Linked DNA regions of Homo sapiens. Each later gene encodes a partner of the first gene's protein in a complex. Each region holds a gene or a part of one and is shown on either strand. Other genes may lie near its edges.

The links.
Region 2: the proteins of NEBL (region 1) and XIRP2 are in contact, whole or in part, in a crystal structure (PDB 4F14), measured with the Homo sapiens proteins. Residues at the interface, in NP_006384.1 of Homo sapiens: Tyr963, Asp964, Tyr965, Asp969, Asp971, Glu972, Ile987, Asp988, Asp989, Gly990, Trp991, Met1004, Pro1006, Asn1008, Tyr1009; in NP_689594.4 of Homo sapiens: Pro2420, Pro2421, Pro2422, Thr2423, Leu2424, Pro2425, Lys2426, Pro2427.

Annotation. Positions count from the first base shown.
Region 1 is NC_000010.11:20,824,267-20,831,545, reverse strand, and holds part of NEBL (nebulette), read left to right. Parts: coding exon 1-73; intron 74-239; coding exon 240-350; intron 351-2,911; coding exon 2,912-3,016; intron 3,017-5,006; coding exon 5,007-5,099; intron 5,100-7,279. UniProt on the Homo sapiens protein: Binds to actin and plays an important role in the assembly of the Z-disk. May functionally link sarcomeric actin to the desmin intermediate filaments in the heart muscle sarcomeres.
Region 2 is NC_000002.12:166,883,261-166,891,533, forward strand, and holds the start of XIRP2 (xin actin-binding repeat-containing protein 2), read left to right. Parts: upstream 1-5,219; 5' UTR 5,220-5,297; intron 5,298-8,273.

The DNA.
Region 1 (7,279 bases):
GAAAGGGATGCAGGTGAGCACAGACACTCTTGATGTCCAGAGAGCTAAGAAAGCATCCGAGATGGCCAGCCAGGTAAGACAGCAGCAAGATACAAAGTTTAAAATAAATGCCGTGAATCATAGCTGGAAAGAGCATAAGTTTTCTTTCCACATGGGTGGCTTTGAGATTCAAACATGTAAATTTCAACATCGCTATTAAAGCTTAAGCAAAGCTCTAAGATTATTTTCTGTTCTTTTAGAAACAATACAAGAAGGACTTAGAAAATGAAATTAAAGGGAAAGGAATGCAAGTGAGCATGGATATCCCAGATATCCTTCGAGCCAAGAGGACATCTGAAATCTATAGCCAGGTTGGTCATGAATGAAGATGCTCAGAATCGTGTATTCCAATGTCATGTTGCCATGTGCTTTGTATGTCTCTATGAATGATATCTTTCTGAGGGCATTGCATTCAGAGCTAGTGTACTCTTTCACTAAGAAACCATTGGCCAAACTTGATTAACCGTACTAATTAATAGGACAACAGTCATAGATTCAATGCAACAGACATTATGGAGAGCTACAGCCTCTCTGTCGGGGCTCCTTGTTTTGAGTCCAAGGACATTAAACCTTTTTTTTTTTTTTTTTTTTTTTAAATTTTAGAGATGGAGGTCTCACTCTTTCACCCAGGCTGGAATGCAGTGGCACCATCATAGCTTGCTGCAGCCTCAAACTCCTGGGCTCAAGCTTATCTTCCTGCCTCAGTGGGCATGAGCCATTGTGCCCAGCCCAAGGATATTTTAACCTTTTCTTTCTTTCTTTTTTTTTTTTTGACCCTATTGGACACTTGGCTCAAATGCTTTTGCTAATACTACAGAAAAATAAATTACAAACGTTTTGTCTTTTAACCATTTCATAATGAATATTAATATTAAAATAGTTCCAAATAAAGCTAACAGTGGCTAAAGCTGCACAAGGTATAAAGTGAAGTTTAGTGTTAGGTAAAAATTAAGGGAACAGTGAGGTTTTCTTGGTAAAATTTAGATTTGTCAAATATACTTGTCCCATATTCTGTAAACAAAGCTGGATGTGGGAGAAGTAGTGACCACAAAAATTTATGGAAGAAGAATTTATTTATAAAATCTGACTTGGGCAAAAACATTCATTAGCAAATAATATCTTTGCTGTAACATTTACTAAAAAAGAATGACTCCCAATGGAAAAAAATAGAAGGAATGAAAAAAATGAAAATGGTTATTTAAAATTGACCATAGCATTTAATTTGATTAATGGAGTTTATGCAGAAAGGATTGTGTAACAACATTTGGTGAAATTTGTTAAAATTCTGATTAAGACATAAGCAAGGACATTAACCATCCACTAGTTCAAAAGGGTAGTATCAAGATGGCAGAGTCAAATGTCAGAGGACTTGTGTGCCTCTCAGCCTCCGCAGCCGACACAGCCGCTGGGATGATCCTGAAGTGTGTGTTCTGTTCTCAGTGTTCGTGAACTTGGAGACATTGGCTTGGCCATATCAGCTTAACTAAAATCCTAAGTCAATGCATTAAACAACAAATAGACATTTGAGTCAGTGGAGAAGAGTTACTTACTCTCTCAAGAATGCCAAATTCATTCCTTCAGTAGGTAAATACCTCCTGAGCACCCATTTGCAGGCAAAACTAGACATGGCTTTGCTCTTGGAAAGCTACAGATAAATCTAATAATCATGTAAATATAGTATTACAACCATGATATATACACCTGAAAGTAAAAGTATTGAGAGTGAAGGTGCCTGAGCTGTCAGATTTCCTGCATTAACTCAACAGCATAGATTTTTTTTTAGTGTGGTGTGAGAATATATCTAATTTTAAGGGATTTTAATCACTGAAATACAATTGGGATACTTACGAGGGTGTAATGAAGCCTGGTGCATTTCAACATGAATAGTAGTTACCTTTCTTTTTTTTTAATTTTATTATTATTATACTTTAAGTTTCAGGGTACATGTGTACAATGTGCAGGTTAGTTACATATGTATACATGTGCTATGCTGGTGCGCTGCACCCACTAACTCGTCATCTAGCATTAGGTATATCTCCTAATGCTATCCCTCCCCCCTCCCCCTACCCCACAACAGTCCCCAGAGTGTGATGTTCCCCTTCCTGTGTCCATGTGTTCTCATTGTTCAATTCCCACCTATGAGTGAGAATATGCAGTGTTTGGTTTTTTGTTCTTGCAATAGTTTACTGAGAATGATGATTTCCAATTTCATCCATGTCCCTACAAAGGACATGAACTCATCATTTTTTATGGCTGCATAGTATTCCATGGTGTATATGTGCCACATTTTCTTAAGTAGTTTGCCAGAATAATTAACTTCACTGATTTTGGAATCAGAGAGCCTGGTTTTAAGTTGAGGCTCTGATACTTACTATCTAGTACTTCAGTTTCTCCATCTGTAAGATGGAAATAATAATAGTATCTGCTTGTCAGGTTGATTAAATGAGTTAGTGTGTGTTAAGTATTTAGAACAATACCCATTACATAGTAAGTACAATGTAAGTGCTGGTACTAGGATAAGATATTGCCTGGGTTGTATTAGAGCTCATAGTAGCTCATTTAGTGGAGAGAAAATTAAGATTTTAATCTCAACTTCAAAATACTGTTAACTTTCCCTTAATCAAATCTATCTTCACATGAAGTAGGAAGCAAAGCGTAAATCTAGAAGCCATGTCGTATGGTAGAGATCGAAGAATGGTATCATTCTATCTCTGTCTCTCCACCTCTCTCTCTCTCTCTCTGGGAGTGTAAGTCAGTAAAAACAGTTTTTTACTCTCTCTCTCTCCCTTCCTCCTTTCCTGCCTCCCTCCCTCCCTCTCACATGTGCGCACACACATAGTTTCAGATTTATATTAACTGTTTATGTTTTTAGAGAAAGTATAAAGATGAAGCAGAGAAGATGCTTTCTAACTATTCTACCATAGCAGATACTCCTGAAATTCAGAGAATTAAGACAACTCAACAAAACATTAGTGCGGTGAGTAGCCATTACTTCTTTTAAGTTGCCACCTTGAAATTTTGTTTTGTAAGAAATGGTCTTTTTTCCTCATTGTCTGATGTTTTCTGCTGTCTTAGTTGAATTTTCTGTCAAGTGTATTATCTTTATTTCTTTAAAATAATAAGAATACTGATAATTTTTACAAATTATCATTTTTCATTATTTTTTTGGAATTACAAATTCAAAATTTCCTCTTCGGTATAAATGACAGTTATTAACTAAATTTTAAAATTTAACTCAGGAAAGAAGTCTGTCTTCTACACAGATTTTACTTTGAAGGTGAAAATAGTCATATGAAGTGATTTTATTCCTGGTTATTGATTGTTTTTACTGATAATATGTCTAACCATTTACTCATTCTTAATAAATTTCTAAACTTCTATATTTTTATTTTGAGGAAGAGGAATTGCATCAGCACTTTTTTTTTTAACTTTTATTTTAAGTTTGGGGGTACCTGTGCAGGTTTTTACATAGGTAAACTTGTGTCATAGGGGTTTGTTGTACGATTATTTTGTCACGCAGGTGTTAAGCCTAGTACCCATTAGTTATTTTTTCTGATCCTCTCCCTCCCCTCCTTCTTCACCCTCTGATAGGCCCCTGTGTGTGTTGTTCGCCTCTGTGTGTCCATGTGTTCTCATCATTTAGCTCCCACTTATAAGTGAGAAAATGCGGTATTTGGTTTTCTGTTCCTGCATTAGTTTGCTAAGTATAATGGCATCTAGCTCCATCCATGTCCCTGCAAAGGCCATGATCTCATTCTTTTTTATGACTGCATGGTATTCTGTGGTGTATATGTACCACATTTTCTTTATCCAGTCTATCATTGATGGGCATTCAGGTTGATTCCATGTCTTTCCTATTGTAAATAGTGCATCAGCACTATTAATTAAGAGGCTGAGTCCATTAATAAATGTATAAACTTGACTTCTGTTCTAAAATTGTAAAAATTGACCATACAACTAATATTTTAACATAGAATTAGCTCAGTCATTAATAGTTAAGGAAGCATCTCATCAAAATATAAATTCTAGTAAGTGTGAGGACTTCTGGAATATTTCCTACCTCCTAATTAGTTGGCAAGCGCCAGCTCTCAGAGTAAGCTGGTCAGATGTCTGCTGGGTCTCCACAGGGATGGCCAGGCTGTACTGAGAAATGGGAAAGTCTTGATGGAAGGATGAGGAAAAGAGGCTGTGTGATTCTATAGTGTTCTGTAGTTCTAGCCTTTGGAGGAAAACATCTCTCCTACCGTGCTCTCCCACCCACGCGGGGGCCACTGGATTACCAAATGTCAAGAAAGGGAGTAATTCTATCCTCATTTACCTTTCTTATAATTACTCTGTTTTTCTGCAGAGTACTCATAACGAGGGCACTCATAAATACTCTTGTGTTTTTGTTCTGCTTTGGGTTTGGAAGGGTAGACGTTAGTAGGGGTGGAGACACATGGGAGAGGGTTAACAAATAAGTGGAAGATGAAGAAGATAGACTTGAAATTAACATTGATATTGATGATGAGCTAACATTTTCTTGGAAGAGAATGTGGGCATCCTTGTGTTTGGAGCATAGAAGTTGCCTAAAATGTCATTTTCTTTTTGAATTCAGTGATAACGGCTTAATGGGCTTTTGTAATATCTGCTTTTTCTCAAATACACATGGGACATATATTTATATTTGAAGAAAGGAACTCTGGTTTGCCAATGTGTATTCTTAAAGCAAATAATCTGCAGTCAGCCATGGTAGTGGTCTAGACCTAGAGCAGGAGAGGGTTATTTGTGAGATTATGGGATATAAAACCAAAGTTTTCATGGATTATCTGAATGGATTATTTAATTTGTTCCTATAATTCCGGCACTCATAAATAGATGCAGTATTCATATTATTATAAAACCTGAGAAATTGTCTTTCTAAGAAGCGGATCTAGGACTTGAATTCTGACAAGCTTAGTTATTCTTTTCCTTTTCTTATAATAAAGGTATTTTATAAGAAAGAAGTGGGAGCTGGCACTGCAGTGAAAGATAGCCCAGAGATCGAACGAGTGAAGAAAAATCAGCAGAATATTAGTTCAGTAAGTTCTCTACAGCATTAATTATCTTTTCTAAAAGCAAACCAAAACTATAGACAAATGTTTTTAGTTCTTTACTCAACTGATGGCTTTTTTCCTTTTATTCTTCACTTTATTGAAATGCTATTTCATCATATATCAAAGATCTAACTTTCAGAACAAAAACTGTATCCTTGTTCCCCTTGACTCTGAAGCAGTGTTTCATTTTGATATATCACAATGAAGAAGAGCTAGGTCATTTTAATGAAACCTAGGGTTAGATTTCATCTCTTTGAAGAGAATTTTAACTCTATTAAATTTTGCAGAGAAAGGATACATTTCAGTACCTCTCCACAAGTTGGAAGAAAGAAATTTTTCCCTGATACAATGATTAAAGGCCCCAGAACATTTATTTGGCAGCTTAAGTGAAGGATTAGATTTGAAAAGGCAAATAGTACCAGTTCATTTTTAACCGATGTCAGTCACATCTCTAAGCTTTTTATCAGACACGCTTCTGCCCATTTCTTCTTTCCAGCCTGTTTTACCTTCTGCTTCTTCCAGCAGAAACGAAAACAAATCACACATCTTCACTATAAATTGTGAAATAACTTAGCTTCCAGTAACCTTTAGACTGGGGGGAGGGGTCCTCTTCTGTTGGAAGGGTCCTTCTAACATTAAGGTGCTTAATATTACGGATAAATTGTTTTTTCCATTGAGTGTTTGACATTTGCTGTGGATAATTGCTCTCCTTACCAATTTGATATTCTCCCATGTATATTTAGTACATTGAGTTTCTTTTTTTTTTTTGAGACAGAGTCTTGCTTTGTTGCCTAGGCTGGAGTGCAGTGGCGTAATCTCAGCTCACCGCAACTGCCTCCCAGATTCAAGTGATTCTTCTGTCTCAGCCTCCCGAGTAGCTGGGATTACAGGCACACACCACCACACCTGGCCATTTATTTTTATTGTTTTTATTTTTAGTAGAGATGGGGTTTCACCATGTCGGCCAGGCTGGTCTCAAACACCTGACCTCAAGTGATCCTCCCGCTTCAGCCTCCCAAAGTGCTGGGATTACAGGCATAAGCTACTGTGCCTTTCCGTTACATTTAGTTTCTTGAGGAAGTAAAAAGGATTCGTTCTTTAAATCCCTTACTCTGACTTATCTTTTCACCTTATCCTTGGAAAGAGCACCTTCCCTTTAAGTAATCCAAGCAGAATTGCCTTGATTAGACTCATCTGTGGGTCACTTGGTCATTATGCAGCATCCAGAGAATATCAGTGTGGGTCAGCGTTTGTGAAGAAAGTGTAGGAGAGGTAAGAGAATGCAATAGTAAAGTATACTTCAAAATAAAAGCATAAAAAGTCTACAGAATATGAGTGCAATAAAACCTCTGTAGCACCATGGAGCTGTCTCTTGAATAAAGTGTAAGGAGGACCTAGGCTTAAGGTGTGGATGAGAGTGGATGAATGTGTTCTTCTGATCTTTCATGGTGAGAGCCTGTGTTAGCCTGGTAGATGAATTAGGTTGGGAGAGAAGTATAAAATATTCATTGCTTCTCTTTCCAATGATAATATTTAAAATGCACCCATCGATGTACTGTGGTTTAATATTATAAATATTCTGTAGTGTGCAATTCTATAGACTACAGTGAAATAACTGTGCCATTTTGATTAGAGTCCCTTTGAAAAACAAAAGTGTTCATCTTTAATCATGTTAAGCTTCTTACCTGAGGAAAATCCCAGAGTATTACAGTATATCATTTCTTCTCTTAGCATCCCACAGCCTCTTCTAGCAAACAATAAATGCATAGTTCTGTATCTGCATGAGGTTGGGCCATAAACTCCTGCTTAGTATTCAAATGGAAAGTTGCCCTTTTAAGATTAGCTAGATCTGTCAAACCAAGATATGATTCTCTAACATTTAAAGATCTCGACATTTTCCACCTCCAGAGTACAAGCCTTTTAGCTGTTAGCTCTCTGTCTTAAGAACTATTTTTGAATTTTATTTAGAGGTAGCCTGTCTCAGTGAACTTCCAATTTAACTGTTTTGGGTCTGGACTAATATTGGCATTGTTACTTACATGAAATCCACAGATACTAAGACATAGATGATATCTGAGATATTTAGGTACTGTTTCTTTATGACAGTCTGCATGGTTTTCACCCTTAATCATTTTAAACATTACCAGGTGATTTCTGAAACATGT
Region 2 (8,273 bases), on another chromosome or scaffold:
CATCCTGAGAAATTCTTAGGCACACTGAAGTTTGAGATAGAAACTCTACAATTTATAAATGGATTTTGGGGACATATGATTTATATTTTAATGGGCAAAGAAAGTGATGACTTTCTTTCTTTCCCCTGTCCTTTATGGAGTAGCTCCAGTTACCAACAGGAAGAAATATGGTATCATAGAAAAAGTTCAAGATTTTCCGCCGGGTGTGGTGGCTCACGCCTGTAATCCCAGCACTTTGGGAGACCGAGGTGGGTGGATCACTTGAGATCAGGAGTTTGAGACCAGCCTAGCCAACATGGTGAAGCCCCATCTCTACTGAAAATACAAAAATTAGCTGGGCCTGGTGGCAGGCACCTGTAAACCCAGCTACAGCGGAGGCTGAGGCATAAGAATCGCTTGAACCTGGAAGGCAGAGGTTTTAGTGAGCTGAGGTCACGCCACTGCACTCTAGCCTGAGTGACAGAATGAGACTCTGTAAAAAAAAAAAAAAAAAAAAAAAAAGCTCAAGAGTTTGAAGATGTAGGGGGTTCTATCAGAGAAAAATTGCACTCGACAAGTTGAACAGGCAAGAAAGGATTTATTTAAGACATCACTTTAGGGAAGAGAGATTGAAAGCATCTCTGCTGAAACAAAAGTTGGTAGAGTTTTATAGTGGGGTGAACTGGTGGAAAAGTACTGGAGGACATTAGTGGGGAGGTGGTCAGTGTGACTAGGCCATCTGTGTTTACTAATTGACACTTACTGAAGTTGGGCTCTTACCTTCCCATAGAGACTGGGAGATGGGAATGCTATCTTTCTTGATTTTTTTAAAAAATATTTTAATATGACTACATAATAGTTGTATGTTATTTATGGGATACATGTGATGTTTTGACACAAGCCTGCAGTGTGTAATGACTGCATCAGGGTAGGTCCTTGAGAAAACTTTTCTGGGTTATAAAATTGGCAAGAAGCTGGGAGAAGATTCAGAGAGTCAAAAAATTTGCAATCGAAAGTTTTCTAAAGTAGATATTCTAAGGGAGTCAGGGGTCAATAGTAAGAAGTCTGTAAAGTATAGTCAAGCTGCAGAAAATATTAAGGCATTCTTAGCCATTTTGAATACTATCTCTGTCACTAATCCTGTGAACTTGAACGGGTCATTTTCCCTTTATGACCTGGACAATGTGAGATTTTGATTCAGGGCTTCCATTAAAATCACTAATGCTAAAATTCTGTTTCAAAGGCTGTTACTCAGCCATTAGTCACCGTGATTGCCTTACTGATTTTTAAAATATCAAAAATAATTTTGAAATTCTTTGTAAATGTCCTCCTTGTGACTCCGAAACTTTCCCAAGATATAGTCAATGCTTCCAGGATGCTGCTTTAATACTAGGATTATGTCCATCTGATACTAGTTGTTAAATATTCAGAATATCACTCTGGGCTATTGCAATCTACTTAACAGTTAGTTAGAAAGCAATCCTAGTAAAAACATGGCATTAGCAATAAAGACTTCAATAGGACTTCAATATATCTTATTTTCCTAAGAATCTGTACTTGCCACTGCAATTGCTGTATACTCCCAAACAATCTGGTATCAAATGTTTATTTTCCAAATTTTTTTAAAACCTTTTCCCTTATGTTCAGTTAAAGTCAATTGATTTTGGCCCCATGTAAAATATGCAGGAGATCACAAATGAATCAAAATATTAACTGTCTTTTAACATTTCTCAGTCTATTAAAGGAATAGAAATAAGCAATTTATAAAGTGCTGAGAGAATACATGACTAATTCTGGTTGTTGATGGTGAACAGGTTAGAACTATGATGACTAGAAGAATTAAAAGCATTTATATTAGGGTACATTTGTGGATGGTTTGCTTGAATAGAAAAAGAAAATTTAAGAGACCCATTAGAATTTTATTCAAATATTTAAAGATTGTTTGTTCATGTGGAAGAAGGATTAGACTTGTTTTATATGGCCTCAAGGCTTAGAACAGGCTCAAAGGGAAAATTACAGAGATATTTTGGGTTTAATGCAAGAAATATAATTTTTCAAATGAGAGCTTATTCAAAACCCTTGCTTTGGACTTCCACAACTCCTCTGCCAAGCCTTTCAACAATGAATTATAGTCAGAAATTAATTCACTGGAATGTCACACCAAAATATAAGGTCCTGGGGAATAAAAGACTGCATGGGATTTAATTCAATAACTAGTGACTTTTTTCCCAGTTGATTTTGGATCTCATGTGTGTCAAGTTGATGAATTAATAAATACAAGTGAGTCTCTTACAATAATGTGCCAACCCAGTCTGGAGGGCCCATCCACATGTGTATTGTAGGAGAAGTCTAAGCATCTAATAATTGTTGAGACTAGATGATTTAGCACAGCCCAACAGAAATAAGTGTTGTTAAGACGCAATTCCCTAAAAGGTCCTGGTTGACATTCAGTGCATTAGAATCTGAACTTCAGCAACCAGGTAGGTTTACCCAGATCAGATATGTATAACAACACCTGGAGAAAGTTTTTAATTTAAGTCCTAATAAAGATACCAAAGCCTAGCTGAGAATGAATAAACAAATATTCAAGAACAACTACTTGCTATGGATTTATTATGTAGTCAAATATAAATACTATAGTTAGGCTCCAGTATAAACTTGCTGTCTGTGTCTTCATGGGAATGGGCAAAATATCTCACCCCCATCAAATTGAATGGTTGGTGCACTTCTTTATTCTTTAGAGTGGGCCTAGTGCAACTTCTCAAGCCTACTCAGGTGGCAACTAAAAATTAGAGTTGGCACATGAGATGAAAATTATTTTCAAGCTCTTGTCTAAGGAAATACTTTATTGTTGATATAGTGTCTACTACCCTTTCTTTGAAATCTCACTATCTTCATCTGTCTCCCACTGTTACAAGCTTCTAGGATGGGATGATAATGTACTGAAATCAGGTTATTTATCATTATTTCCAAATACTTTGAATATCTGCTAAAGGGATTCCTCAAAATTCACTTTAAAATCAATTATTATTTTTACTAAGTGGTTTATTATTTTAATGCACACACAGATTTCTGGTTTTCTGCTTAGGAACTATACCAATGTTTCTTAAAAATGTCACTCTCTTATTTGTCCATGCTGTTTTCATTTTGTTAAACGAGTCATTTTGTTAAATGAGTCTTTGGAGATGAGAGGGATACATTAACCTTTTCTTGTGGGAAAAACATTTGGACTCAGAAGTAAAAATGGATCCCTCACTGGTCAGAAGCATTGACTCAAAGGCATGCCTCATTTCATGCCATTCATCTTCACTCTCCTGGGCCTCCAAACCCCAAATGTGCCAACAGTAGTCCCATCGCAACATTATGTGGGCATTACAGTTCTACACATCCTTTTCTGTTGGGGATCTTGCTTTTTTAAAAAAACAGAAGTAGCAAAATGATGCTGATTCTTACTTGGTTTCTCATAATTACCGATAATATTTTGTTTAAAATAGTGAGAATCAGCCCTGCCACAACTTGGTCTTGAATGCTCTCATCTTTATATCTAACCAGTCACCTTACATGTTCAATATTCCAGCTGAGTATCACTTCCAGATATGTTCAGCATAGTTATTCAATAGGAGTACTTAATAAAGACAAAATGTCACCCAAACTGTATTTTCTCTCTGTGTTATGTGGAATTTGCCTGACTTTGGTCAGGATATATTTTGTCTATCCAGTTCTCTGTGTCTACTGTTTTTGTCACTCTGTCGTGGAAGGAAATTAAGTTGATTTGACAGGATTTATTTTTCACAGTGCCAAGGAGATTTTACCCAGTAACTCATGATTTTCTAGGTGCTTGAAAATTGATTTTTTGATGATATGTTTCAGTAAGTTTTCAACTAAATACTGATGCTGACAGGTCTGTAATTTCTAAAGTTATCTGTTTTTTAATCTTCCCAGAGTAGAAACAAGAAACACACCAAGATAAGTACTGCATTTAGTCTTTTTAATATAGCAGAATGTCTAAGTCCTTTTTAAGTTCATAGATGTTGAGCTAATTGTTCTTTATTGACTTTGGCAAACTCTTGGAAAAATAATTAAGTCACCAGAATTTGCAGTTCAAAATGTGACCAGTTTATAACATTAGCCTTGTAGTCGAACCTTTATATCACACCCTGTATCGTCTCCAAATACCATATCATAACTGCCCTATATTTTAAGCTTTCAAACAAGATTTCTGAAACCTACAGTTTGAATACTGGCTAAGCACTGCAGTTATTTATATAATTTATGGTCATTTTTATATATGAAAATTCATTGATTAAAGTTGTAAGATTTAATTTATTATATTAAAATGCATTTCTGCTATTGAATTCCTTTATGCAAAAAAATCAACATTGTCTTTAGTAGTATATCACTGAACCCCTTATATATAAAAACCCCAGTTTGGAACAAAGAGCTATTAGATGACCAAATAAGAATCAAATTAGACTCTGCAATTAGAGTCTGCGAAGAGAAAGACTTTACTTATTTGAAATAGTATATAGCTTACTATATGTAAAATAAAATAAAATTATCTCAGAAGCTGTGGTCTCCTATAATTTGTAGAAGATGATAACTGATATCGCTAAGCACTTTTTGGTTGCAAATAACTATACTTAAATACTGCTAATAAAAGCTGACATCCGCTGATCACTTGCTTCATACCAAGCACTATCCTAAGTTCTTTATGAGCGTGATTTCATTTATTTTGTTCATCTCACAACAGTATAGTTAGAACATACTATTATCATCCCAATTTTCAAGTGAGGAAACTAATGTTTGGATATATTAAATAATGCATCTAATGTCATATACTAGTGTTTGAGTAGGAATTTGAAGCCATTTGGTTTGAATCTGGACTCTATGTTCATGATCATTATCCAAAATTCTCAGGTGTCCCAACCCCTCACAAATGACTTTGAATTAAATATTAGGTTTATTTTTATATGTATGGAACCTGACGCACAGTGATAATTAAAGTGTAGCTCAGCCATAGAGTGAGCCATTGGTCACTATGGGTCTTTGGGTTAAAACATACCTTTAAGAATATGTAGGAAAAAAATGATAATAGCTAACTCAGCAGCATTCATTAATTCATCTGCAGCAGATTAACTTGTTCCAAAATAATGAGATAATCTGATTCTGATGGAACATGGAGCAGACAAATTCTTCTAGAACCCGACCTGTTTCTATGTGGGTGTATCCAGGAAGTCAGGATTATTTGGAGAAATCTGGCAGGTCTCTAGGCAGACAAAAGGGAACATCTGGTAGGGACTGGGACATGTAGAAAAAAGGTAAGATTTTCCTAAGAAAAACCACTTCTTTCATAATTTTTTCTACACATACATGCTTCTCTTTGATAGTTTCTGACAGGACACTATTTTGCCTCTCTCTCCCTATTTCTTTTAAGTAATATACATTAAATTAGCATAGAATCACAGCATCATCAACAAATTCAGGCTAGCGCTTAGTGACAGACACTGCTGCTAGAATCTCTAGTTATTCATTTGTTTTTCTAACTAAGAAACAATTTAATCTGGGGCAGCAATGTGCCCAGAGAAAAAATAGTTAATCTCTCAGACTCAAAACACGTAAGTTTGGCTATATATTATATTTTTGGACACTGAAAGATAGTCAGGGACTTCTGGGGAAGAAATTTAACAAAAACAGCATCACCCAAAGAAAGCATCTGGGCAATTCTCCTTTCTTCCTTCGTTCCATTGAGTCAGGTCAGAGAGGACTCGCCAGGGACAAAGCCATGACCCTCAGGGACCCAAGGGCATGAGCCTGCAGCTGACAGCCCCATTCTGAATAAGCATTCAGGCACACAGACCAGGGTGGTTGTTGCAAACCCCTCAGCAGCTGCCTCCTGGCACAACCACCCACTAACATGTGATCTAGCAGACAAATGGAAGCTCTTCTTACCCCACTTCTTAGGCACTCCAACAAGGGTTCTGAATTCTAAAAACAGCAAAAAACATTCAAATTGTTACATATGAAATGCTTTCCTGCACCTTTCTATCTCAGAGATGACAGCTGTCCCTCCTCCACTCTCTCCCCACTCGCCCCCAGACACCTCCCTAAACAATTTCTGTGCCAAGATGAAGAGGATGTCCCAGGCCATGGGGCTTCTGGCCTTGAAGGGCTGCTGCAGTGGAGCCAGGGCACAGGGTAGGTGAGACACAGCAGAGGTTCTGGCCCAGGTCCCTGGCCTCTCCTCCTGCAGGTGGCGTTTATTTATTCAAGGGGAGCAACCATGTTCATTTTCCCAACAATGTGGCACCATATTTTGCTTTCCTCTCCACTTCCTTCTTCCTTGCAGCCTTCTCCCACTGTTTCCAGATGATCACCAGCCAGGCAAGGCCCACCTTGGCTTGCTCTGTCTCTCCTGCTAGTGCATTTTCTCCTTAAAAGCTCCTTTAGCCTGTCCAGATCCACTTGTTTGACCTTTCTGGTTGTCTATCCTACCTGCTTGGGGTTCTTGATGTTGATGAGTCCTTCCATGCCTTTGTGCTTTTGCTGGTAGTCATTTTCTTCATTTTCATTCTCTCATAAGTCTAGATTTCTTCCCCTTTTTGGGGTAAGCCCCATCTCCACCTTCTTCTCCTTGTTATTCTTCTCCATAGCAAGCAATCCTCAAGCAGGTATTGAATTAATGAATGGTGTTGTGTCTTCTCCAGTTCATTAATATTTCTGTTGATGTAGCTAAGTTTTATTTACTTTTTAGTTTTATTTTATTTTATTTTATTTGAGACAGAGTCTTGCTCTGTCACCCAGACTGGAGCATAGTGGTGTGATCTCGGCTCACTGCAACGTCCACCTCCCAGGTTCAAGCGATTCTCCTGCCTCAGCCTCCTGAGTAGCTGGTATTACAGGCACGTGCCACCATGCTGGCTATTTTTTTGTTTTTTAGTAGAGATGGGGTTTCACCGTGTTAGCCAGGATGGTCTCAATCTTCTGACCTCATGATCCTCCCACCTCAGCCTCCCAAACTGCTGGGATTACAGGCATGAGCCACCGTGCCTGGCCCCTAAGTTTTATTTTTTAACTGTGGGTTCATAGGCTTCGGGCATCAGAATCACCTCTTGGTGCTTTCTAAGAAGGCCAGTTCCCAGTTCAAATTCCAGACCTTGAAACTAGCTGAAACTCCCCGAGTGGGCCCTTAAGAATCTGCAGTGCTAAGGACATCTCAGATGATGTTGGTGCACAGAAAAGGTGAGAACCAGAGCATCTGAACAGACTGTAAATCCCTGAAGTCTGGATTTATGTTTTATAATTCTTTGACAGCTCTCAATAGTAAACTCTAAAAGTTTGTTTTTATTTTTATTATTCACACTGAGATTCATATTTGAAATTTCATGAGAGCAAATTTTGCATGCTTCTTTTATTACAGATGTATTCTGTATGTGGGTGTAGCAGAAGCTGATATGACAGATCATCAGCTTTGTCCTAAATAACAGGTATTGTCTGGTACGCAGCCTGCTTGGGATAATCCATGAAATATTTAACAAATTTCTTCTTTTGTTAAATACTAATTACCCATATCCTCCAGACAGTTTTCTGGGACTCTGAGATGGGTCCTTTTACTAAGGATGAGTTTATTTTTCTATAGAATTTGGAAACAAAAGCTGCTTCAATCAGCCTTTAACGAGTAAACTTGTAAGCTGAGTACCTAGCACAAACAGGGGTTATGGTTGAGGGTGCACTTCTCTCTTCCATGACTTACTAAATAATGCAGCTCCCAGAGCTGGCTATGAGAGATTTGGTGTCTTGTAGCTGCTATCTGGCGACGTATGTCCATCATGCTTGATGTTCATTAGTTAGATGAGATCAGTAAGTTAAAGAACTGTTAAATTTGTGTTTTCCTTTAATGGATACGTGACTGTGGTAGCTGAGTCACAGGACAGAAATTTGACAGAAAAAGACATGGCGGTAAGATAAGCTTATTGCAAATATACAACTTCATAAATTCTTCTAATAACTTGTCTTAGCAAGGTGCCTTAGCTGGTTCACTTAATAAATGTGAATGTGGAGATAAAAGAAAGAAAAATAAACAAATGCATTGTTCCTATCTCTTTTTTACATATATGAATTATGCATGCATCCTATTAGTGGGAAATTAAGTAATGTACTATGTTAGCTACATTTTTGGCAGAAAAATTAATTGTTCTGATAAACCTAGCATAGCTGGAGAAGTTAATGTAATTGACAATATATAATAATAAAGCTTTAGTTAAGTTTTTTCCTTAATATTGAAAATGCCATTTCTT